Linked DNA regions of Homo sapiens: regions 2 and 3 are each linked to region 1. Evidence: fine-mapped expression QTL. A gene starts in region 1. Each other region holds a variant in brackets. All regions are shown on one strand. Distances are from middle to middle. Region 1 holds the start of GPR25 (G protein-coupled receptor 25). Region 2 overlaps INAVA (innate immunity activator). Region 3 overlaps KIF21B (kinesin family member 21B).

What was found.
Region 2: its variant is fine-mapped to the expression of GPR25 in whole blood (INTERVAL, PIP above 0.99).
Region 3: its variant is fine-mapped to the expression of GPR25 in whole blood (INTERVAL, PIP above 0.99).

Annotation. Positions count from the first base shown.
Region 1 is chr1:200,869,457-200,877,630 of GRCh38, forward strand. It overlaps GPR25 (G protein-coupled receptor 25), which reads left to right and starts at 3,525. Exons shown (of 1, transcript NM_005298.4): 1 at 3,525-4,722. The coding sequence starts at 3,582. The coding sequence ends at 4,667. RefSeq lists an enhancer at 3,577-4,219.
Region 2 is chr1:200,901,356-200,909,529 of GRCh38, forward strand. INAVA (innate immunity activator) reads left to right here. Exons shown (of 10, transcript NM_001142569.3): 6 at 6,479-6,532; 7 at 7,375-7,585; 8 at 7,869-8,042. Among named protein-coding and RNA genes, the nearest start is that of INAVA, 11 kb to the left of the region's middle. RefSeq lists a silencer at 4,578-4,697. The variant T/A (reference allele first, on the strand shown) is at 4,759.
Region 3 is chr1:200,968,296-200,976,467 of GRCh38, forward strand. It overlaps KIF21B (kinesin family member 21B), which reads right to left. Exons shown (of 35, transcript NM_001252102.2): 33 at 7,204-7,374; 34 at 6,419-6,618; 35 at 1,095-5,283. The coding sequence ends at 5,226. Among named protein-coding and RNA genes, the nearest start is that of KIF21B, 51 kb to the right of the region's middle. RefSeq lists an enhancer at 2,780-2,959. The variant G/A (reference allele first, on the strand shown) is at 4,962.

The DNA of each region.
Region 1 (8,174 bases):
TCAGGCTTGTGCTAATCACCCTGATGAGTAGAAAGAAGCTCCCCCTCGCCCTGAGAAGTTCATAATCCCATGGGCAAGGCAAGACGGAGCCACGTAACAGTTGCCCTGGCTCCAGCAGTGCAGAGAGAGGAAGTCCTCTTAGGGATGGAGGTTAGAGAAGGCTCCCAGGGGTGGGATGGAGGAAGAGGGAAGACTTCTTCTGCTTTGTCCACACCTGTTAGAGAGCATGGCCAGGATTCCCAGCCTGTAAGGGTGAGTGTTTCTATTAGTTGACTTGTGTGTAATCCTGTGGGGAGTCCTCCTGAAGGGTGAAAGAGCAGTCTTGTGAAGTTGGCCTTGGTCACTGAAACCGGGCTGGGCACCCCAGGAGACCGGGCCTAAGGCAGTGTCCCTGGCTCTGACCTTTGCTGTTTCTTCTCATCCAGACAAGTTCAGTAAGGCCCATGGACAGCACCCAGGCCTCAGCAGAGAAAATTCAGCATATGCTCTGGGCCACAGACTTCCCTTGGGTATGAGATGATGGCCCAGGAAGCAAGTAGCTCTGTGATTTTTAAAATAACCTACTTCTACTTCCCCTCAACCCCCTTCCTATATTCCCCTCTTGGTCTGCTTGCCCCATTCTTTGTTTTCACCCGGCGGCTTCTCTGCTGTTCATCTCTAGCTTTCAGGATCACTCACACTCTCTGAGCCCGCAGACTGAGGTGTGCCTGAAGGGGTGAAGTCCAGCAACACTGGGTCTGTCTCTGATGGTCTCTGGGCTCTGGCAGGCAAGCACTGCCCCTGCTAGCCTTCTAGGGGAGGAGGCTGCAGCCCCCTACTCCACCCCGGATGTGGGCACCGCTCACCAGCAACCACATGCTCAGACATTAGAAAAGCGGCTCTGGGGTGGGTCTTCAGGGGAAAACCAAGCCCGGAGGCTGAAAAGCCAGTGAAGGGAAGGTCCAGACCATTCATTCCCTAGGCTCTTCTCTTCCCTGCCCATCTTGTAATTGGTGTGGGAGAAATTCTTGACAGGAGCAGCCTAAACACTGCATACCCAACCCTCTGTGAGCTCTAGGACCATTTTCTTTTTGAGATGGAGTCTCGCTCTTTCACCCAGGCTGGAGTGCAGTGGCTTGATCTCAGCTCACTGCAACCTTTGCTCCTGGGTTCAAGCGATTCTCCCACCTCAGCCTCCTGAGTAGCTGGGACTTGCGCGTACCGTGCCCGGCTAATTTTTGCATTTTTAGTAGAGACAGGGTTTCACCATGTTGGCCAGGCTGGTCTCGAGCTCCTGACTTGAAGTGATCTACCCACCTCGGCCTCCCAAAGTGCTGGGATTAGATGTGAGCCACTGCGCCCGGCCTCTAAGACCATTTTCCAAATCCTTCCTGGGGATCTCCGTGTGCCAGAGGGACCCTGAGCGAGGGTGACCTTATGTCCCAGTTTGCCCAAAATAGTCCTGGTTTACGGCCCAGGTTAATTCTGATAGTGCCCCTTTCACTCTCAGAAACATCCTGGTTAGATGATAAATTATTTCATGACCCCACTTCAACATCAAACTGAACACATACACACATGTGCCTCTCTGTGTTCTTGGCAGTTAAGGGGACAGCGTCCATATAGTCCCTAAGCAGAGAAACCCCAGGCTTATCTTTGACTCCTCTTTGTGAGACCTATGATGTTACAATTATCTCTTGAATATACCCTCCCATTTCTGTCCCCACTGCTCATGATCTATTTCAGACACAAATAATTACAACCTACTATGGGGTCTCCCTGGCTTGAGCCTCTCCCTTCTCCATAGTTCTGCCAGCGATCTTTTCAAAACACAGATCGATGCCTCCTGGCTCCCCATGACCTATAGATTGAAATCCAAATCCCCTCATGATCCTTTCCTGCTTCATCTCCTGCCCCCACCTTCCTACCCTGGGCTCTGGCAGACTGCTTGTCCCCTGAAAAGCCCACATTCCTACTCATTTTGGTATACTTGTTCCCTTTACTCCCTCCTCCGAGTCTGACCCTTTCTTCTCTTTTCTGCTGCTCTTATTTGACTTTCAGCTCCTTCCTGGGACTGATCTCAAGTGTCATCTCCTCGAAGGCCTTTTCTGATTCAGCCCTCCCGTCAAAAATAATCACTCCCCCTCCACTAAACCCTAAGAGGGCTTGGTTTTTAACATTTACTACAATTTGGCCCCTGCATAAGATTACATAAGATTCTGCTTATGTAACCATCTCTCCTGCCTATGCAACAAACTGCGAAGGCCAAGAATGGCATCTCTTGCAGTGCCTGAAACAGTGCCTGCTTCATGGAGGAGTTCATTGTTAACAAGTCTTAATCGAACAAAATTGATAATCCACCTCAAATTTTCCACACCGGGTTGCCCGGCACATCAGCCACTCATACCTGGGAACACTGGGGACAGACTCAGAGGGCACTGTGACATCAGTTCTACCACAATATCTTGTGGAAGGGATATCTGCTAAGAAGAATTCAGATGTAAGTGGCTGCATGCCTCCTTCAGGAGAAAGAGCAAGCTTTCCCTCACCCATCCTCTCCTCCTTAGGTCCCACTGCCTCCTCAGGGTCAGACTTCATTCCCCCTCGTCTTTATGAATCCTCCCCTTACTCTCAGTTTCTCAGTTCAGAAGGGATCTTGCTGCCTCCAAGCTCCTGACTCATAATTTAGGACAACTAATCTGGTGTTTCATTAGGTGTCATCTTTTGAACTGAGCTTACATCTGTGTCTGGCTTGACAGGTTTTTTAGGATAGGAGAAGACAGGGAAGAGGCAGATGTGAATCCCAGGTTTCACCCCTTTCCAGCAGGATGATCTGACTACACCCCTTCCTCGCTGCCTTAAAACCCTTTCGCGTGGCTTCATGAGGACCTGACTGGGTCAGAGAAGCCACTCATAGGGTGAAGACATGAGCCCCACATCTCAGGACGCTAACAACTGCTTGACTGCCCAGGGCGGGCTCCCCCACCCACCCAGATCTGCTGTGTCCCGGCAGTGGAGTCTTTCCTAGGGAACAGGTGGATTTGGGGTGGGGCGTGCCTTAGGCCCCATACTCATAAAATCCCGGGGCTCTGTCTTCTCACCTCTAAAACAGAGAAGACAGCAGCCGGTGGGTGCAGGTGGGAAGGGGTGAAGTGGAGGCTGAGAAGAGGTTAGGGCTCTCGGGCACCCACCACCTCTTGCAACGCGACCCTGAGACAGTGGGGCAAGTATCCCGATTTCACGAACAAAGAAACTGAGCAACTAATAGAGGAATGGGCCACGCTCCTACTGGGAGGCCGGGCAGGTCTCCCAGCCCTGAAGACTTTTCCTCCCAAGATTTAGATGTGAAGCCCCTTTTGCCTGTCCCTGCCCTTACCCCTCGGGTCAGCCCCAAATCGGAGGCCACCATCTCTCTCACAGAAGCCTGCCCCTCCCACCCCATCCCCTCCTCCCTCCCCTCTTTCCTGCCCACCCATTTGCCTCCGGCTTGGGTGGCAGGAAGGGAGGTGCAGGGCCGGGCGTGAAGAGCAAACCCCCTCCTGCTCAGAGCTGCTGCCGCCTGCGCCCAGGGCTGCACTCCGCGCAGGCCTCATAGCCAGGCCATGGCCCCCACAGAGCCCTGGAGCCCCAGCCCGGGGTCAGCGCCCTGGGACTACTCGGGGTTGGACGGCCTGGAGGAGCTGGAGCTGTGTCCGGCCGGGGACCTGCCCTACGGCTACGTCTACATCCCCGCGCTCTACCTGGCGGCCTTCGCCGTGGGCCTGCTGGGCAACGCCTTTGTGGTGTGGCTGCTGGCCGGGCGGCGGGGCCCGCGGCGGCTGGTGGATACCTTCGTGCTGCACCTGGCGGCAGCTGACCTGGGCTTCGTGCTCACGCTGCCGCTGTGGGCCGCGGCGGCGGCGCTAGGCGGCCGCTGGCCGTTCGGCGATGGCCTCTGCAAGCTCAGCAGCTTCGCGCTGGCGGGCACGCGCTGCGCGGGCGCGCTGCTGCTGGCGGGCATGAGCGTGGACCGCTACCTGGCCGTGGTGAAGCTGCTCGAGGCGAGGCCACTGCGCACCCCGCGCTGCGCGCTGGCCTCGTGCTGCGGCGTCTGGGCCGTGGCGCTGCTGGCCGGCCTGCCCTCCCTGGTCTACCGGGGGTTGCAGCCCCTGCCTGGGGGCCAGGACAGCCAGTGCGGCGAGGAGCCCTCCCACGCCTTCCAGGGCCTCAGCTTGCTGCTGCTGCTGCTGACCTTCGTGCTGCCCCTGGTCGTCACCCTCTTCTGCTACTGCCGCATCTCGCGCCGCCTGCGACGGCCGCCGCACGTGGGTCGGGCCCGGAGGAACTCGCTGCGCATCATCTTCGCCATCGAGAGCACGTTTGTGGGCTCCTGGCTGCCCTTCAGCGCCCTGCGGGCCGTCTTCCACCTGGCGCGTCTGGGGGCGCTGCCGCTGCCGTGCCCCCTGCTGCTGGCGCTGCGCTGGGGCCTCACCATTGCCACCTGCCTGGCCTTCGTCAACAGCTGCGCCAACCCGCTCATCTACCTCCTGCTGGACCGCTCATTCCGAGCCCGGGCGCTGGACGGGGCCTGCGGGCGCACCGGCCGCCTGGCGCGAAGGATCAGCTCAGCCTCCTCGCTCTCCAGGGACGACAGTTCCGTGTTCCGTTGCCGGGCCCAGGCCGCGAACACTGCCTCGGCCTCCTGGTAGCTGCCCCGGGCCGCTGGAGGTGGGCGGCAGCGGAGCATCGAGAGGAGGCCAGAGGTCCCGGAGGGGACTGAGCTCCCCAGACGCGCCTGTTCTGGCGGCAGCAAGCTGCTCGGGCCGGCATCGCATTTCCTCGCGCGCTGCCTGGACTCCCAAGGCCTCCTCCATCGGTTTCCCCGGAACCTCAGAACAATTGAACTCCCCTAAACCAGGCTCCTGTGACTAGCTGTTCCCTCTCAGCCTGCAGGGTACCTGAGCTAATTTTGTCCAGTCCAAGATAGGTGCTATGAGATGTAGCAGACAGCAACTCGGAGACCCGCAGATTCACCAAGTAGACAGAAGGGAAGTGGGTTTCCTTCTCTGTCCCATCGGGAAGAGAACCCACCAGAATATCTAACCCAGACCCCCAAATGCCATTCTGATTTCTGGCTGTGCTTTCTCCCGTCTCCCACAATAGCCGTTGCTTTCAGAGAAATACCTTCTCCAAGTCAGACCCCCTGCCCTTCTCACTCACAAAACCCTTGCATTGAATCTGGTGACACTTCTCCCCCTGTGAAGCGGCAGGACTCACCTGGAAGTTGTTCTGGTCTTTCCCTCTGGACAGAAGGTCCTGAAATCGCTCACCAGGCGTTTTTTGAGGTCTCCATCACTCAGCCAGGAACCTCAAAATCTCTGTGAATTCATCTTTCTCAATAAACACTCTTGCTAGCCCTGTCTTGACAACCGTCTTTGCTTGAGCAGTGGGAGTGAAATGCATATCAGGAGGCGGGTCGTACACTGGGTGAGACAAAACTCAACACAGTAGTTGAGGTTGATCTCAGGATGATGAGGATTTGGGGTGGTGTCTGGGAGCATGAGAGCTGGCTGCACTCTGCAGGTGCAGTAATCCCACAGGAGGAAGCAAGTCATTTATTCTTATTTTTAAGGACATTTCACATTTTGAAAATTACCGAAAGAAAATATATTTATATAAGGGCATCTGCCAGCCAAGTGTCACTTCCAAGAGAAGATGTGTCATTTTGGATTTTCAAATATATACCAGGCCCCCCCTTTTTTTTTCTATCTTTTTTCAGACCTTCCAGTACAAACTTGGAGGATTAGCCATTTTCTGACTCTGTCATTTCTCATTTGAGGTTTCTGTAGGGTTTGGAAATTCACTGTTTATACTTTTGATTTAAGAGGATTTGGCCTAAAGACATTTCAGTCAGTGCACATCCTAGCCAGATCCCCACAGGCCAGTCTTGATGTTGCAAGCTCTGGGGGAACGGGTGGGTGTGCACGCACATCAGCACCTCAGCACTAGGTTGGGTCTGAAGGCTGGCATTCTGTCGCAGGCTATCCATCCCATCCCCCCATCAAATACCCCTGTATTCTCTTCAGCATTTGGAGCTGCTTGGATTGAACATCGGCTCTCCTAGGTCAGCCTGCCAAAAAGTGCATCTCTGCATGTTCCTACCATATACTCCAAGAGAGGCAAGCCTTGCAGCCTGTGAGGTCACCTCTGCCAGCAGGACACATTTCAGGCACTTCGGTGTTTGAGAGTTCAGTTAAGTCTTGGCCCTTCCTATCCTCACGATTGCTCTCCGAGGCAAGAAATTATTTTTTCATGGGGCTGAGACCCCAGAATTTTCAGGGCAGGGAAGCTGATTCTCATCTGGGTTTGTGTGTGACAAGATCTCAGAGTACAGAGGAGGCACTTTTCTAGGCTATTGGGACTGAGCCCCCACCTCCACCCCTGCCAAGTTGCTGCTTCTGACTTACTGACTAGTTGAGTTCCCTGAAAACAGACAGGAAGAAAGAAGACTTCTCCATGCCCTGGTGGGTTTTCGTCTCCCCTCCTGCAGTAGCTATTGAAACTCAGCATTCCCCTCCTGCTGTGGAACTCTGCAATGTGGAGAGACAGTTTCCGCCCTTTGTTTGAGTAGATCACGGAACTGGTCTACCATGTGTCCTTTGGAAATTTTCCCTTAAATTCAGACAAAAATGAAAGAGGATCAGTGAGCTCCCATCTCCCACTGGGGAAGATGAGGCTCAGATTCATCGAGGAACTGGTTAAACGAGCATTCCCACATATGTGGCTGGTGAGAGTAGATTCCTTTAGAAAGCAATTGTCAATCTTCATCAAGAGCTTTAGAACTTTTCATATCCTGTTTATTTAAAATGTTTATACCCTTCGACCCTGTAGTTTTGCTTCTGCCACTCTCTTCTAATGCAACAGTACTAAATTTAAACGATTCTGCACTGAGTTATAGAAGTTTTTTTGTTTTGTTTTCGTTTTTTGTTTTTTTGAGATGGGATCTTGCTCTGTTGCCCAGGCTGGAGTGCAGTGGTGTGATCTCGGCTCACTGCAACCTCCACCTCCTGGGTTCAAGCGATTCTCCTGCCTCAGCCTCCCAAGTAGCTGGGAATACAGGTGTGCACCACCACGCCCGGCTAATTTTTTGTACTTTTAGTAGAGACAGGGTTTCACCATGTTAGCCAGAATGGTCTCAGTCTCTTGACCTCGTGATCCACCCACCTTGGCCTCCTGAAGTGCCGGGACTACAGGCATGAGGCAGTGCACCCTGCGGCTGAGTTAGAGAAGTTTTTAAAGAGTTAAACCTGAAAGGAAACAACAATGTCCAACAACAGTGTAATGTTTTTATTAAGATGAATGACTATTATGCAAATTTAAGATGCTCTTTAAAGAGAGACTGAAAAATGTTGACGGATAACTTAAAAGGGAAAAAAAGGTAAAATTGTGTCTGTTAAACACACCCACACACTTCAAGTCTGGAGGATGTAACATGGTTAGCACTGGTTTTGTTAAGTAAAACATAACATGCTTCATAGTCCTTTTGATGAAAACGATCTTTTGCTCTTTTATTTCTCATAGCTCAAGCTTTGAACACTATAGGTATATCTCTTTTATCTAGGTGCTAACTAATGGAATGCTGTCGATTTATTTCTTCGTTTCTTGCTTGTCCCTCCTGTCAGGATGCAAGCTCCATGCATGCAGACGGTTTTGTCTGTTGGTTCAAGGCTGTGTTCCCAGTGCCTGGAGCATGCCTGCACATCTCAGGCACTCACTAACTACCTGTTGAATGAATGATCATCAGGACCATGTCATGATATGAAATAATGTCATAGAATGTGAAGAGTAAAAGGAAGGCTATTGCATTTTATGTGTAACAGCTATGGATTGTTAAAGGACTTGCAAAAAAAGGCTAGGAAGAAATACAATAATCATTAATGATAATGATTGTGTATGATTGTGTTAGAGTAAGTGGATTTTAGATCCTTTTTCCCCTCCATTTCTTTACTTTTAAATGTTCTATGAGCTTTTTTTTTTTTTTTAAAGAGACAGTCTTCCTGTGCAATCATAGCTTGCTGCAGCCTCCACCTCCTGGCCTCAAGTGATCCCCCCACCTTGGCCTCCCAAGGTTTGCTAGGATTACAGGCATGAACCACTGTGCCTGGGTTTATAAGCTTCTTTTTTTTTTTTGAGACAGAGTCATGCTCTGTCACCCA
Region 2 (8,174 bases), 32 kb after region 1:
CCTTAGAAAACACCCTACTCTCTCCTTCCGTATCCTCCTCAAAATACACTACCTTCAAGAGACTTCCTACACAGAGATATTTCTCAGCTGACCCTGAGCTGAATCCAAGGTGTATTCAACTGGGTAGCCCAGGCTGGCCCCGCTGCCCTCCAGGCCCACAGGGTGATGGCATCTCTGGGTCAGGGTAGTGTGAGGCTCCCGTGAGCCCAAGGCTCTGAGTTGATGTGTAGTCCCCTGGCCTGAGTTAGGCAGCAAAGGGTTTGACGATTGCTATGTGTTACTGATCACTGAATTGTTTCAGGGGCCCACAGCTACTTAGGAGATGTTCAGGTTGAAATCCAGCAGGACTGGTGCCACACCCCACAGCCCCTTAAGTATCTACAACCACCCTGGTCAAGGGTGGGATCCTTCCATGTCTGTTCTCTGCCCTCCTTGTGTCTGTAGTTCAATCCCTGAGCTCCTTGGCCCAGAGACTAGTGGCCGTGGGGGCACCTAGTGAGTTGTTGATGCCCAGGTGCTGCCACATCACATCAGTGTGTCCACCACAGGTTAGCTTCCAACAGGTGGTTCTGAGCCCTTAGGTGTGACTGTTTTCCTTTGTCCTGACCCAAGGCCAGCCTGTCAGGTCAGGACTTGCATCTCTCCATTCCAAACCCCACCGCAGCAGGCCCATGACTCAGCTCTGCCCCCCGTCTCTCACATGGGACCCAGACCTCCCTGGCTGCCTCAGAGGGAACCGGGAGGGAATGAGGCCGTGGCCCTGCAAAAAAAAATCCAGAATTGGATTCAGAGGTCTCGGCCTTCATTCACATTCTCAGGCTCCCATCCCTGCATATCGTGTTGGCTTTTTGCCAAGACTACTCCTCAGCCTGGGAGCAGTCATGGGGAAGCTGGAAAGCCCTTGCTAGTCCCTGTGCCCTGCAGCCTATGCCTCAGGCAGGGAGTTATCTCAGCACAGGTCTCAGAAGTCCCTGCTCCTATCCATGGCTTTTAATTTAGGGTAGAAAGTGCATGACCAGACACCACCCAGGTCACCTCCCGCAGCCAAGAGTAGGTGATAAAGGAGGAGGTGCCTCCATGTGACAGTTAACCCAGTAAACTCAGAAGACAGTGGGGCTGACCCAGGGAAAATGGCCAGACCTCTGTCCGGTTCCAGTGGTTCTGGCTTGGCCGCAGAACAACACTCCCAGTCTCTGAGGCTCTAATGGAAGACAAGTTCTACAACCTTACTCCACTCTCAACAGGGATCCCAGGACTTGACAGCAACCTTGAAAGGTAGCTGCTGAATTGGACATGGAAGCCCCTAAGGGCCAACTTGCTCTGTGCCTGCAGGGAGAGGTCAGGGTGGTGAGATATGCCCGTTGGTTGCAGCGCCTCCTGCTCCCCGGTCCAGCCTCACACTGCTCAGCAGCCTCCCCTGCCCACCGGGGCTGCCATTGCTGGGAGCTTCTGCCCATGATGGGTGGCAGGGGAGTGTCACCCTGATGCTGCCATTGTGACCCATAATGCTTCTTGTTGGGAGTCGGGAGCAGGCCAGGACTGGCCTGGGGCTCTGTGGAAGGCAGGAGGATGAGGTTCTGAAACCTTGGAGCCCTCAGTACAGGTGAAGACAGAGCTGTGGAGAGGAGACAACTGGTGTAGTTGCTGACTTTCCCACATCAGGAATCAAGATCCCACTGGCCAACTTCAGGCCCTGGGATCTAAAGTCCTGTTGTGAGAGCACAGAAGGGATCAGTTCTAGACAAGTAATTTCTGTTTTGTGGCTCCTCTGCCCAGCCGAGCCCTCCTAGAAAGGAGGAAGTAAAGCAGAATTATTAGTAGCTGAGGTGTTTTGAATTAAAAAGGGAAGGCCGGACACTGTGGCTCATGCCTGTAATCCCAATACTTTTGGAAGCCAAGGTGGGCGGATCATGAGGTTAGGAGTTCAAGACCAGCCTGGCCAACATAGTGAAACCCCATCTCTACTAAAAATACAAAAATTAGCCAGACATGGTGGTGCATGTCTGTAGTCCCAGCTACTCGGGAGGCTGAGCCAGGAGAATCCCTTGAACCTGGGAGGTGGAGCCCAGGATCAAGGGAGCCGAGATCGTGCCACTGCACTCCAGCCTGGCAACAGAGTGAGACTTTGTCTCAAAAACAAAAAACAAAACAAAACAAAAAAACAGGAGGCCAGGTGCAGTGGCTCACACCTGTAATCCCAGCACTTTGGGAGGCCGAGGCGGGTGGATCACTTGAGGTCGGGAGTTCAAGACCAGTCTGACCAACATGGAGAAACCCCATCTCTACTAAAAATACAAAATTAGCCAGGCATGGTGGCGCATGCCTGTAATCCCAGCTACTCGGGAGGCTAAGGCAGGATAATCACTTGAACCCAGGAGGCGGAGGTTGCGGTGAGCCGAGATTGCACCATTGCACTCCAGCCTGGTGACAAGAGCGAAACTCTGTCTCAAAAAAAAAAAAAAAAAAAAGGGAAAAAAGCAAACAACCCAAAAACCGAAATAAAAAACCACCCTGCCCCCTTGGGCTCCATACAAGGGTAATTTAGTTTGGGAAAGTAACTGCTAGGTGAGAGTCATCAGCCATACTTTGCAGTGGCAGGGAGCAGTCAGGTGTTGAGCTCATTTACTAGAGTGAACCGCATGAGGGCCACCCAGCACCCACCTGTGCAATGTAATAGGCACTCTGGATGCATCTGTTGATCAACAACACCAGCCATTAGCCACATCCTCATAACATTTTTTTTTTTTTTTTGAGACGGAGTCTTGCTCTCTCATCCAGGCTGGAGTGCAGTGGAGCCATCTCAGCTCACTGCAACCTCCACCTACCGGGTTTAAGCGATTCTCCTGCCTCAGCCTCCTGAGTAGCTGGGACTGCAGATGCGTGCTGCCACGCCCAGCTAATTTTTGTATTTTTAGTAGAGATGGGGTTTCACCAAATTGTCCAAGCTAGTCTCGAACTCCTGACCTCAAGGGATCCTCCCGCCTTGGCCTCCCAAGTGGTGGGATTACAGGCGTGAGCCACTGCGCCTGGCCGCTCATAGCATTTCTGAGATGGTGGAAGTGTTCTGTATCTGTGCTGTCCAATACAGTAGCCACTCGCTGCATGTGGCTATGGAGCATTTGAACTGTGCCTAGTGTGACTGAGGAACTGACTTTATTTAGTTTTAATGAAAATAGCCACATGCGGCTAGTGGCAACTGTGTTGGACAGCATAGCCTTGGGGGAAGCTCAGCATTTGTGAGTAAAATCTCCACCGTTACCCCTCTGTCTGGGGTGTCCTGCGATGCTGCTGCGGGGCAGGGGAACGCTGAGCTAGGGCAGGGTTGGGACAGTTGCTGAGATAGTGAGCAGCTCTCAGAAACCTGAATCTTTTTTTTTTTTTTTCCAATCTTTTTAGAGACAGGGTCTTGTTCTGTTGCTCAGGCTGGAGTGCAGTAGTGTGATCATACCTCACTGCAGCCTTGAACTCCTGGGCTCAAGTGATCTTCCTTCCTCAGCCTCTAGTAGCTGGGACTACAGTCATGTGCCACCACACCCAGCAAATTAAAACAAAACAAAACAAAAAAACTATTTTAGAGATGGGATCTTGCTATATTGCCCAGGCTGGTCTCAAACTCCTGGTCTTAAGCAAACCTCCTGCCTCAGCCTCTGGAGTAACTAAGATTATAGGTGTGCCTGGCCCAATGAAAATCTTTATTCCTAAGGTTTTTATAAAAGATCAAAGGCAGGAGACCAGAATTCAGTAAGAGGGGGTCTCTTTAATTGAACCCTAAAGCAAAGGCTACTTGTGAGCCAAGCAAAGCATGGGCTGGCTGGCTACTCAGGAGTCAAGCCCAGCTCCTGGTACCGTATGTCCTAGAAATCTACTGCCTGCTCTGGGTAAAGATTTTTTCATTAAATTGCGGAGCAGGCTGAGCATGTTGGCTCAAGCTTGTAATCCCAGCACTTTGGGAGGCCAAGGCAGGAGGATCTCTTGGGCCCAGGAGTATGAGACCTGCCTGGACCACACAGGGAGACCCTGTCTCTACAAATAACTAAAATAAAAAAATTGGATAGGCATGGTTGTGGACACCTATAGTCCCAGCTACTCAGGAGTCTGAGGTGGGAGATTGATTGAGCTCAGGAGGTCAAGGCTGCAGTGAGCTGTGATCGGGCCACTGCACTCCAGCCTAGGCAACATTGTAACAACCCATCTTTAAAAAGATGGGTTAAACCTTTGTGGAGCAAAGGTTAACAAACTTTTCCATAAAGAGCCAGACAGTACATATTTTAGTCTTTGTAGGCTCTTTGGTCTTTATCACAACTGTTCAACTCTGCTACTTCAGTGCTAAAACAGCCAGACATTACATAAACAAATTCATAGCCGTGTTCCAATAAACATTTATTTACAAAAGCAGCTATTGAACTGGATTTGACCCCTGGGCCATAGTTTGCTAACCTCTGTTGTAAGGGATTTCAAGATGGTTGGAACTTTTTACTTTTTTTGAAACTTCCTGGGCAATGCCCATGCATTTGAGATGCAAGCTCACAGGGGAGAGCCCATAAAGGGTTGTGGTTAAGAGCAGACTCCAGTCAGACTGTCTGGGTGTGAATTCTGACTCAACCACCTTTGTTGAATGTATAACCTAAACCACGTTACTCAACTCCTCTGAGACGTGGTTTCCTCAACTGTCACTTGCAGGTGATAATATCTACCTTACGTGGTTGTTATGAGAATTACCTGAATTAATATATATAAAGTGCTGTATTTAGAAATGTA[T/A]TGGCACAGTAGAAACATTAGCAATTATTACTTTTTCCTCATCTTCATTCTCAAACACAGTTGAAAATGTTTCGTGAGTTCCATCCAGGTCACTTTAGGCTTATTCTCAAGATCTGAAGGCCTGGCCGGGTGTGGTGGCTCACGCCTGTGATCCCAGCACTTTGGGAAGCCGAGGTGGGTGGATCACCTGAGGTCAGGAGTTCAAGACCAGCCTGGCCAACCTGGCAAAACCCCGTCTCTACTAAAAATACAAAAATTAGCCAGGCATAGTGGTGTGTGCCTGTAATCCCAGCTACTCGGGAGGCTGAGGCAGGAGAATCGCTTGAACCTGGGAGGTGGAGGTTGCAGTGAGTCGAGATCACACCACTGCTCTCCAGCCTGGGTAAGAGAATGAGACTCCATCTCAAAAAAAAAAAAAAAAAAAATCTGAAGGCTTAAGTTTCTTCAAAAGCAATAGCACAAATGAGTTCCCTCTGATTTCTTAGGTAAAAAGTGCTGCTATACCATGAAGTAAAGTCACACTGAATTTCCTTCAGGTGACTTGCCAGATCACCAACTGAAGAAACTTCCCTGGGGCCAGCTGGCCAGACCTTATCTTAAATTCAAATTCCTACCTTGCGTTCCTCTTGTTGTTGGTAACACAGGAGGTCTCACATTGGGATCTTTGAATTGTGTTTGTGATGTGAGATGATTATACAAAAGTTAGAGTGAAATTCCCTTTTTTTTATTTGAGACAGGGTCTCACTCTGTTGCCCAGGCTGGAGTGCGGTGGTGTGATCACGGCTCACTGCAGCCTCGACCTCCCAGGCTCAAGTGATCTTCCCATCTCAGGTTCCCAAGTAGCTGGGACTACAGGCATGCACCATCATGCCTGGCTAATTTTCGTATTTTTTGTAGAGACCAGATTTCACCATCTTGCCCAGGTGGGTCTTGAACTCCTGGGCTTAAGCCATCTGCTGCCTTGGCCTCCTAAAATGCTGGGATTACAGGCATGAACCACCGCGCCTGGCCATGAAATTCTTTTTATCCTAAGGGCCTTCCAAAATGACCCTTTGTCTTTCCTTTCCACTACCAAGAAGCCCTGCCAGAGGACACCCTTTTTCTTTTTTTTTGACAGGTGGGGAAACTGAGGTCTAGAGCATTGAAATGGTTTATTCAAGGTTGCATAGCTAGTATCAGAGTCAGGATTAAAATCAGGTTTCCTGTCTCCTAGCTCTGCCTTCTATTTTTTTCTACTTCCATGTAGTAAGTTTACAGCCAGGCCAGGCACAGTGGCTCATGCCTATAATCCCAGCACTTTGGGAGGCCAAGGTGGGATGATCACTTGAGCCTAGGAGTTCAAGATCAGCCTGGGCAAGACAGCAAGACCTCTTCTCTACAAAAAAAATAAAATAATTTAGCTGGGTGTGCTGGCATGCCCCTGTGGTCTCAGCTACTTGTGAGGCTGAGGTGGGAGGATCCCTTGAGCCTGGGAGGTCAAGGCTGCAGTGAGCCATGATCACACCACTGCACTCCAGCCTGGGCCACAGGGTAAGACCCTGTCTCTTAAAAAAAAAAAAAATCACTCCCAATGTGTATTTAGCACACAGAGGGTATTTCCTCATAACTGATGCTGTCCTGGGGGAGTGATCAGGCCTGAGCTGCTCAGCACTGCTGGTTACTCATATCTGTTTGTTCATTTCTTCACTTCCTTCTCTTCTCTCCCCTTTGTCTTTCGCAGAGCTCAGTGCCTCTGATGACAGCTCCCTGTCAGATGGGCTCCTCCTGGAGGAAGGTGAGAAGGACGTTTGGGGGACTATTGTCAAGGCTGGACTCCTACTGCAAGACCATGGGGTTTGGGCAGTTTGCTGGTGTGGAATTTAAGTGGGAGTGAAGGCTAGGGTGCCAGGCTTAGGGTTTCCGCTTGGACTTCATGTCAATTTCCGCATGTCCTTGCACATGCTCAGTTGAAGATGGGGAATGTGCGATCATCTCCCATTCTGGAAGCTCATTATTTTTACAGGGAAAGGAAAGGTGAACTCCAAGAGAGCTGATCAACCCCAGATGTCCCTCCTTCACCCTTGGGTGTGATTTCAAGATGCACCAGTCAGAGCCAAAGAGCAATCTGCCCACAATCATTGCTGTTTTTTAAAAGAAGGGAGCAGGAAGGAAACACAAGTCTATAGATTAAGAACCCTGTGTACAAACCATGAGGATGCCAGGGTCAAGGTGGATCGAGAAGCTGTTGCAGTCCTGCCCAGGGGAGTGCCCAAGCCAATAAGGAAATAAATAGGCCATATGGGCATGGCAGGAACAAGAAAAATAGGTAAACAAAAGATAACTGCAGACATGGTACCAGGAACAAAGGTTAGAAAGTGGAGCACTGTAAGCCCAAGAGAGTCAATCTGGGAGGCTTCTTGAAGGAGGAAGGCATAAAATAGGGCTGTGTGGGAAGAAGTAAGTCCCAAAGGAGAAGAAAACATGTTTGAGCATCTAGGGCTGGAGCCATGGCCTGCAGCAGCTGCACAAGCCAGCATGGGAGGGAGAGCGGCGAGGCATGGGCTGTGGTTTGTGGAGGTTCTTGTTGGGCCGGTTCCCCCAGCCTCTGGCCTTACCAGGTTTCTTTTACTCCTGCAGAGGAATCCCAAGTGCCAAAACCTCCTCCAGAGTCTCCAGCCCCACCTTCTCGGCCTCTCCCACCCCAAACCCTTGAGGGTCTGCAGCCAACAGGACCTGAGGCTGGGAGCCCAGAACGGGCTCCAGTCCAGAACAGCCCCTGGAAGGAAACCAGCCTGGACCACCCCTATGAGAAGCCCAGGAAGTCTTCTGAGCCCTGGAGCGAGTCCAGGTCAGGATCAGGGGGAAGGGAGAAGGGCAGGGCAGGGCAGGGAGTCGGTGGGAGCTATGCTGGGGATGGCTATAGGCTGGGCAGATGGAAAAGTGGAAAGGTGGAGGAGAGAGCTCCTGCAGTCGTGGGATGGAGGTGTGAGCCTTGATAGTTCCCCAAGGGTGCTGGCAGTTTGCCCTACTAACTTTGGGAGCCCCTTCCACTGCATCCCCATTCTTCTGCACCTCTTGAGCCCCTGAATGGAGGCATTCCTGCCACTGACCTGTCTCTAATCCTTTTGCAGCAGCCCAGCCACCACACCACAGGATGGGCCCAGTGCCTCCAGCCTGTGGCTTCTGGAGCCTGCCTCCTACCACGTGGTTCCCATCCGTGGTGTTCCTGGCCAGTGGCAGGGCCGCACCAGTGCCCCAGCCACCCCTGAGATACAGGGGAGGAGGGGCCAGTCGCAGTCTCTGAGGTAAGAGACAGCTTCCCCAGAGAGATGGGGGACCCACTTAGAGCTTATCGTTGGAGGGTGGGAGCTCCCAGGACACAGGTGGGACAACCCTGGGTGACACATGGCTAGTGCCTTGACTTCTCTTAGGATCTC
Region 3 (8,172 bases), 99 kb after region 1:
TTCTGCCTCCTACAGACTCCAGGAATTCCCTGGCCAGAGCACCTGTCACATCCATAAGTCTGGACAAACAGCAGGGGACCTGCGCAGGCTGAGGAAGCAATTTGGTTTTATATTTGGGAAACAAAGCAAAGAGAAACCCTATTATATTCCTGATACAAATATCAGGAAGTTAAGCTTTTTAATCAGTTGTGGCTGGTGATGAAGATGTGGATTCTCCCCGAGGGGCCTCTCTGCCCAGGGGATGGGCCGGAATCTCCAGGAGTTGGTGAAACAATTCATGGTTATCAAAAGGGAATATGGGTTCTTAAAGACTGAAAAGCACTGATCTAGGACAAAAATCATGGTGAGGCACAGTGACTCACGCTTGTAATCCCAGCACTTTGGGAGACTGAGATGGGAGGTAAGGCTTAAGCCCAGGAGTTCGAGACCAGCCTGGGAAACATAGTGAGATCCCATCTCTATTTAAAAAGAAAAGAAAAGACCTTTGTAGAGCTCTTTTCTTGTATGATCTTTTTATAGTCTTGCCTTCTTTCCATAAGTGGCAAGGGACCGAGATGCGTTTGGCGTGCACCACGCACAGCGTAGTCCAGGCCCTAGAGAGGTACGTGTTACGTTAGCAAAAGGCAAAGGCTGCTGTGGTTGGGGAGGTCTAGATGCAGATCCTGGCTCTGTCCTTACTAGCTGTGATCCTGGGAAAGTCACATCCATCCCGAGACCTTTCTCATTTCATAAAATGAGAATGTCACCTGTCACACAGGGCAGTGAAGACACAATGAAAAATGCTCTGAACAGTGCCTAGGATATAGCAGTTGGTCCACAAATGCTGCTGCCCACTCTTCCAGCAACTGCACCTGCCTCTGGAGACAACATATGGAGTCTGGAGGAGAATGTGACGCTCTCAAAGCTCTCTGCTTTCTAACTGGTGAAGCCCCAAACTCACAGCTCAGGAAGTTCTCATCAGGCTGGGCCCAGCCCCAGAGGCCTGCTGCACCCATTCACCCACCCACCCACCACCACCACCAACTCCCTCTCCAAAGGCCCCAGCCAAAAGTCAGCAGCCCCCTGGAAGGGGACAGGGGACACCTCCACAGACATTGGTCATTCAGGTTTTATTTATGACAACTTCTTAGAACACACACATCCAATCTAGGAACAGAAATGTACAACATGGGGCTTAAATAACTTTCATACACTATGTACAGCCATCGGCAGAGGTACAAAACATATATACACCTTGTGCTAGTCACATCATGGAGGACAGCAGGAGCCTAATGAAGCCTGCAGCCTGGGCAGGACATGATTGCTAGAAAAGAGTTGGTGGGCAGGGCAGGGCCCTGATTCATCTCAGGGGTCTTCTCTGATCCTCGGCTCTTTGTGGAGGAGTTTCTATTTCCTACTTCCCTGCAAGGCCCTCAGGACATGGTTCACAGGACTGAACTAGAGTGTGATAGGGGCTTCAAGATCATGAGTGCTGGGGATGGGGCAGGGGACAGAACAAAGGTATCAAAGAAGAAACAGAACTTTCCCTGCAAAATCTGTCCTTGCACACAAGAGGGCAGGGAAGGATCTGGGAGTCAGGAGAGGAGGGCCAGGCCCAGGAAGGCCTGTGGGGCATTGGCCACTGACCAGGAGGCTATGCCAAGCAAGGAGAGCAGCAAGCAGTTGCCTGTTTGGGATGGCAAAGGGACACATACCACAGGTCCGGGACACACAGTGGGAAGAAAGTCACTGCTCCTGCAGGGCAGGCTCTGCCCACACAAACACGATGGTGAACAGACCAGGCACAGGCAACAACCAGGGGATATGCCTGCTCCCAGCCCAGACCACATCGGGGGATGCCCCCCAGAGCTGAGAGCTAGCAGGGCAAAGAAGTGTTATGTTCCCTAACGTCACTGCAGCCACCTGCTGGTGTCTCCCTCCACCACATCAGGCACATGAGAAAGTCCCCGCAACCTTGTGTTTTCCCCATGTGGTTTTGTGCTTTAAACTGCCCTCTGCCCAGGCCACACATCCCCAGACAGGCAGCAGGGCTGGACAGCTGAGGGTGAAGAGATTCCTAGGCTGAATCCAGGGTGAGGCCACTCCCAGACCCACCGCTGTCCCTTCCCAAGGGGCTGAAGGTGGCACTCTGACCACCTCAAAGGCTTGGGTGTGCCAGGCTCCGCCTGTTAATCTTTCCTCCTTCCTTGGAAATCTCGCAAGGCAACTCCATGCGCTGCCTTTGAGAGTTCTGGCTGCTTCAGAAGAGTCCGCCACTCACGTGAAAGCAAATACTGAACTGACTGATAGTGAGGACAGGGCCCTGGCACAGGACTATGCTGAAGAGGCCCAAGGGCAGTGGGGATGGAAGACTCCTTCTATCCAGGGAACCCGCTCATAAGCTTCGAAAGCACAAAGTGGGGCTTGACCCAGGAGACTGGGAATCAGTCCAAGCTCTTCAGGCTCACTAGGGCTAGGACTCAGCCTGAACTCAGGCGTTTAGAGATTTGGGGTGCGGGGTTTAGAGAGCGCTTTACTCCTGGTCCCATGGCGTAAAGATGTGGCTGGGCCTGACAAGGCTCAGCCTCCAGTCTTAAGATGGGCACAGAAGGGCAAGAAGTAAGATGACGAGTCCCAGAATTAGGACAAGCCATGAGCCAAGGCCTGGTCTGAGCAAGGGCAGCCCCCTGTCCCAGACACAGGCACCCCCAATCTCACTTTGGACAGAGCCAACGTGGGGGGATCCTCCCGGGCCTGGGCCTGTCAAGTCTGCCTGCGGGACCCTGCCATTGTGCTCAAATCACAACCATTTTGTGCTTCCAACATTTAGGGTGCTTGTGCAGTGAGTGGAGCTGGGGGCCTGCCCCCTAACATGGACCTTGGACATCCCTGAAAGAGTGGGCAGAGAATCCAACTCTCATGAAGCACAACTCGGGGTGTCTCATGGATGTTGGGCTCAGGGCTCCTGAAGGACTTCAAGTTTAGAGAGTCAATGACACTTGCCAGGACAGCAGAGCTGGCCCCGCCGTGAGGTAGCTGACCCATCAGAAACAGCAGAAAATGGGCATGATGATGAGCACCTCTCGCAGGGCCATAAGATCACACTTCGTGCAAGAACACGCCTTGCAGCTACAGTGCAGTCACCCCAGGTGGGGCATCCCCGGCCCGGGGGTGGGAGCTCAAGGGGACAGAGTCTTACGTGTTTCTATCGCTTGTAAACAGTCATGCGGACGGATTCTTTCTTACAGGTTGCAAGGTCAAAACTTTCTGTTCAGGTTGGCGGGGAGGAGTGGGAAGAGATTTGTGGCCACATCTTAGAGCTAAGGGGGTTGCCCGGCACCCCCGGGGTGGCCAGAGGAAGAAGGATTTCCAGCCATTGCTGACAGACTGTTCAGGTCCCAGGAGACCAGCATCCAAGGGGGTCTCCTTCCTGCTATCAGCTGCCCCAGACTTCAATACCACATCCAGCAGGGCCAGCACCAGCAGGACAGCCGTCTTAGCCTCTGTGGCAGCTCCGAGGAGGGCACGGGGAAGGGACCAGGCCTCACTCAGCCTCCACTGGAGCCTGCCTCCCCCCAACACTGGGCGCCACATGGAGAGGGCTCCAAGTGCCCCAGCCCAAGACGGAGAGGAGCCAAGGGCAGAAACACAGAACCACCTCTGGAAAGTCCAAAAGTCACTGCGTCCTCTGAAGGGAGGTGGGGCTGGCTCTTGGCTCCCAGACTGAAGCGGGAAGCACAAGACCAGCGATGCAACGGAAAAACAGGGTGGGCAACTTTGGGTGGGGGTGGGGCGGGGGAGAGGGATGGAGCTCAGTCCCCCCCAAGGCCCACTCCTGTAATTCCAGAGTTCCCCCAACAGGGGGCGCCAGAACACTGATTTAACAATTTCCCCGGAGCTCCGCGTCCCCAGCCCCGGGGCAGAGAAACTCTGCCAACTCCCTCTTCCTTGATAATTTTCTGCAAGGGAGGGCCTGCGCTCCATGCCAGTTTTAAGGCCGAAAATGTGTCTCCTGAATAACCAGAGAGAGAGAAGCTGGAGAGACTCCCCGGCCCAGTGGGGGACTGCAGGGCTGGGGAGGGGCGGGGGTCAGGGTGCCGGGCTGTCCTCCCCATCCAAGCCACCTCCCAGCAGACACAGCCCCCATGCTGCTTCCTACGTGGCCCACGCAGGACTGTGGGGCAGAACCCCGGGGCCTGGGCTGTGGGGTGAGCGCCCCCGCCTTCCCGGGGGCGCTGGGCACAAGACCTCGCGAGTGAGAAGACACATGTGGTGCCGCGGGCATGGCTGGTGTAAGGCTGCCCGGCACGGGTGCCAGGCCCCGGAACGGAGGAAGGCACTGAGCGTCAGGCGGCCTAGAGGCCAGGGGTAGCTAGAAGACTCCCTGGGGGCTGTGTCGGGGACAGGCCTGAGCTGCAGAGTCGAAGGAGCAGTTCCCTCCTCTGCAAAGCAAACAGAGGAGGCGGCCCTGGAGGGCCGGGGCAGCGGACTCCCTTTGGGATTTCTGGCCCCCAAGAGCTGAGGGAAAGAATATAGGGGAAGAAACTTCAAGTCCGTTTCCAGGAGGCAACAGCAAAAAATAAAAATAACAAAATAATAAATAACTGAAGTATTTCTGACCATCTCCCCAAAGGAATCTTTCTAGCAGCTCCACCTTGGCCCCATCCAAAAGGGACCCCAGGGAACTGTTGGGGCCAGTTGGGGCTATCTGCGGGTTGCCAGAGGGTTAAGGGTTAGCTGCAAGGCCCAGCCGCCCACACCTGGTTTCCTTAGCTACCTGAGGACTTATCTTTTTGGGCTCAGAGGCAGGTGCAGTGGCTCTAGAGGCTGGGCTGGGAGAAGCGGGGAGGCCAGCTCCTCGGAAGGGTGGGATGGGGCCAGGCTGCTGCACCTCCCCACAGGGCTCCACCACTGGGCCAAAGGCCTGAGAAAGGGGCAGAGCCGGTTCAGCAGGAGACAATGTGGCCACGACTGCCAGGAGG[G/A]GAACAAGAAGGGATAATGCCCTTTGGCTTCACAGCTTAATTTCCTCCCCAGCCTCTCTCTCACCCAGAGGCTCCTGAGAGGCAGGGGAGGGATGAGGGAACAGTGTCCTGTGGGAAGGCCAAGGGAGAGGGAGGAGGGCAGGAGAGGGGGCCACGCCCTCTGTCCCCAGAGCAGCTGGCCCCATCGGCCGGGTCACAGCTTCCCTTCCATGGTGTCCAGGCTGCTGGGGTCGAGGGTCCGGGGGCATCCCTCTGACCTCACTCCTAGGGTGGGCCGCTGTGGGGTAACCGCCGGACACTCCAGAACTTCACCGTCAGGTCACTGGGGTGGAGGACAAAGTGGAGGGGTGCCGGTCAGCTCTTGCAGTGGGCTTGGCTGGCTGCCCCCAAAAGTAGAGGATGAACTGGATTCCCCAAACTCCCCAAATGTGGTTGGGGCTGGGAGGCAAGCATGGCTTACGGGGAGGTGGACTGCAGGTGGTGGGGTGCTGGGCAGATGGAGAGGCCTGTGCACTCAGAGGCCCCCAGGGGAGCTTTGTCATGGGTTTTCTTTTTTTGGGGGGGTGTTTCGTTTTGTCCAGGCCTGAAGGCTCCCCCTTCTGCTCCCTGGCACCCATCTCCTGGGGCCTGTCCCACTGTTCATGCTTGGAAAAGGACGGTGGGTGCAGGAGGGACAGGCAGGGCACCTCTCTAGGCCAGGCAGGACAGGAAGGGAAAGGAAGAAGAAGGAGTAAAATAATCTCATACCGTTAAGAAGCAGCTCAGATCGAAGTGGGGAAAGAGAGGGAAAAGGAAAGAGGGGAAGAATGAAAGAGGAGACAGGGAGAGTTGGGGAGGGTCAGGGCAGGGTGGTGGCGCGGCCCTTTATGGCCAGGACTCGGCGAGGAAGGCAGGGGGTGAGTCCAGGGACGTAATTCCACAACTTTACCCGGCAGTCACTGTGTGGGGAGAGAGGCGAGGACAGAGAGGAGAGGTGGGAGGAGATGGGAAGGGGAGGGGAGAGAAGGGACAAAGTCGGAACAAGAAAGAAAGCCATCTGAGTCGCACCCCATGGGACAGAGGGCCTGGCTGCTCCCCACACAGGGGGCCAGAGCGGGTGGGTGGGGTGTAAGAGGCGTGGTCTGGGGCTGGCAGGGCTGCTCTGTGCTCTGAGAGATACCTGCACGGGGGAAGACAGCCAGGGCAGGGGAGGGTAGGAAGGGCTTGGAGACAAGCGGGCGAGGCTTGGCCCAGGGCCCAGTACCTTCCTCCTCCCCTGCCTAGCGCAGTGCCCAGCACATGGTGGGCACTCACTGAAGGCTGGCACAGGCTAGGTATGCAAAGGAGGCCACCATGGAATCTGCTCTGTGAACCGAGCCTGCGGGGACAACTGCAGGGCCCTGAGCCTCCCAGCCTCCCCTGCCCACACCAGGAAGGAGATGAGGGAGCAGAGGCAGACCTCTCTGACCAGCACCCACCTGGAGGCTGTGAAGATATGCTTGGCATTGGTGCAGATGGCATTGATGGGACTGTCGTGGCCCTTGATCTCACCGATGGGTGTGAAGTTGTCCACGTTCCAGACCTTGATGACACCCGCACGGCAGGCGCTGAGCAGCATGGGGCGGCCCGGGATGAAGGCCAGGGCGCACACCCAGTCCTTGTGCGCATTGGGGATTTGCTGTGAGAGGATCAGGGCTGGTGAGGGCTGGGGGAGGTGATGAGGGAGAGAACCTGCCCCAGGGCCCCTCTTGCTAGTAGTGGAGCTACTTCCAGGCTCCCCTGGCCTCTAGAGCTGCCACACGGGCGGGTGACACTGGTTCCAGGAGCCATGCTGGGGTGGCCTGTGCTGTGGGCTTTAGGGGACCAGAGATGGGTCCCTCTGCTCTACTTCCCAGGTTCAAGCCTAAGATCCTGCCCTGGCAGAGAACCCTTCAGCCCTCACACGGGTCAGGCTAAAACACAAATGCTCCCAGGAAAGGAATTGGGTAACTGAGCTTCACATGCAAACCCAAGAGCTGAGAGCAAAGGCTTTGCTGAGAGCAGGTTGCCTAAGAGGGAGATGTGGCATCAGGAGAGGCCGCGGGTAGGGAAGAAGGGAGGATGGAGACAGAGGAGGAAGAGGGAGAACAGGAGGGCTTGGGGAGCTGTGAAAACCATCTGGCCTGGGGCCCGCGAGTCCAGGTCCCAGGGTCTCCAAGGCCCTGCGTGGGCTATGGAAACCACCCTACCCGAGTCTACCCTCTCCCTTTCCTCCTGACCCCACCTGGATGAGCTCCTGCTGGTCTAGGTCCCACTTCTTGATGCCGTTATCTCGGGAGCCACTGAACAGGATGTCTCCCTGGATGGCGAGACACTCGATGCCATCGTAGTGCGGGGGCTCGAAGTTGTGAGTGGGGCCGATGGTGCCCGTCACACACTCGCCCAGCTCGAACATCTGTGGGAGGAGGGGCCAGTAGGGAGAGGCCAAGTGGGAGGATGGAAGGCAGGGCCTACAGCACTGTGGACCCAGAGGCCTGAAGACCCAGGAGTCTGGCTAGGGTGACAGCCACTGCCCTCTGGGGAGAGGAGCTTCCCAGCAGGCGAGGGTTCCTGGAGGTGGGGCTGCTCCTTCTAAGGGACTGGGAACACGGAAGGTTCAGATCTTGACCCTTCCTGTGGATACTGGGGCAGGGGTGGGAGGAGACCAACTCAAGTAATGCAGGGGTGAATCAGCTCATCACGCCGAGACCCCACAGCTCAACAGGCAGCTGCTAAGGAGAAGGGTGGGTTTAGGGTGTGAGCCTCCCTCTAGAATTCTTTTGATTTTTACTAAATATTCACCATAATCCCACCACCCCTGAAAACCCTACTTCTTTCCAGTTTCTTTTTTGTTGGAGACTGAGTCTCACTCTGTTGCCCAGGCTGGAGTGCCGTGGTGCAAACTCGGCTCACTGCAACCTCTGCCTCCCGGGTTCAAGCGATTCTCCTCCCTCAACCTCCCAAGTAGCTGGGACTACAGGCGCCCGACACCATGCCTGGTTAATGTTTTGTATTTTTAGTAGAGACAGAGTTTCACCATGTTGGCCAGGCTGGTCTCAAACTCCTGACCTCAAGTGATCCTCCCACCTCAGCCTCCCAAAGTGCTAGGATTACAGATGTCAGCCACCACGCCTGGCCTGCTTCCTTTCAGTTTCTGACTGTGTATGGACAGTTTTCAATGGCATAATCAGAGAGCAAACAAATTAGTGTTTGT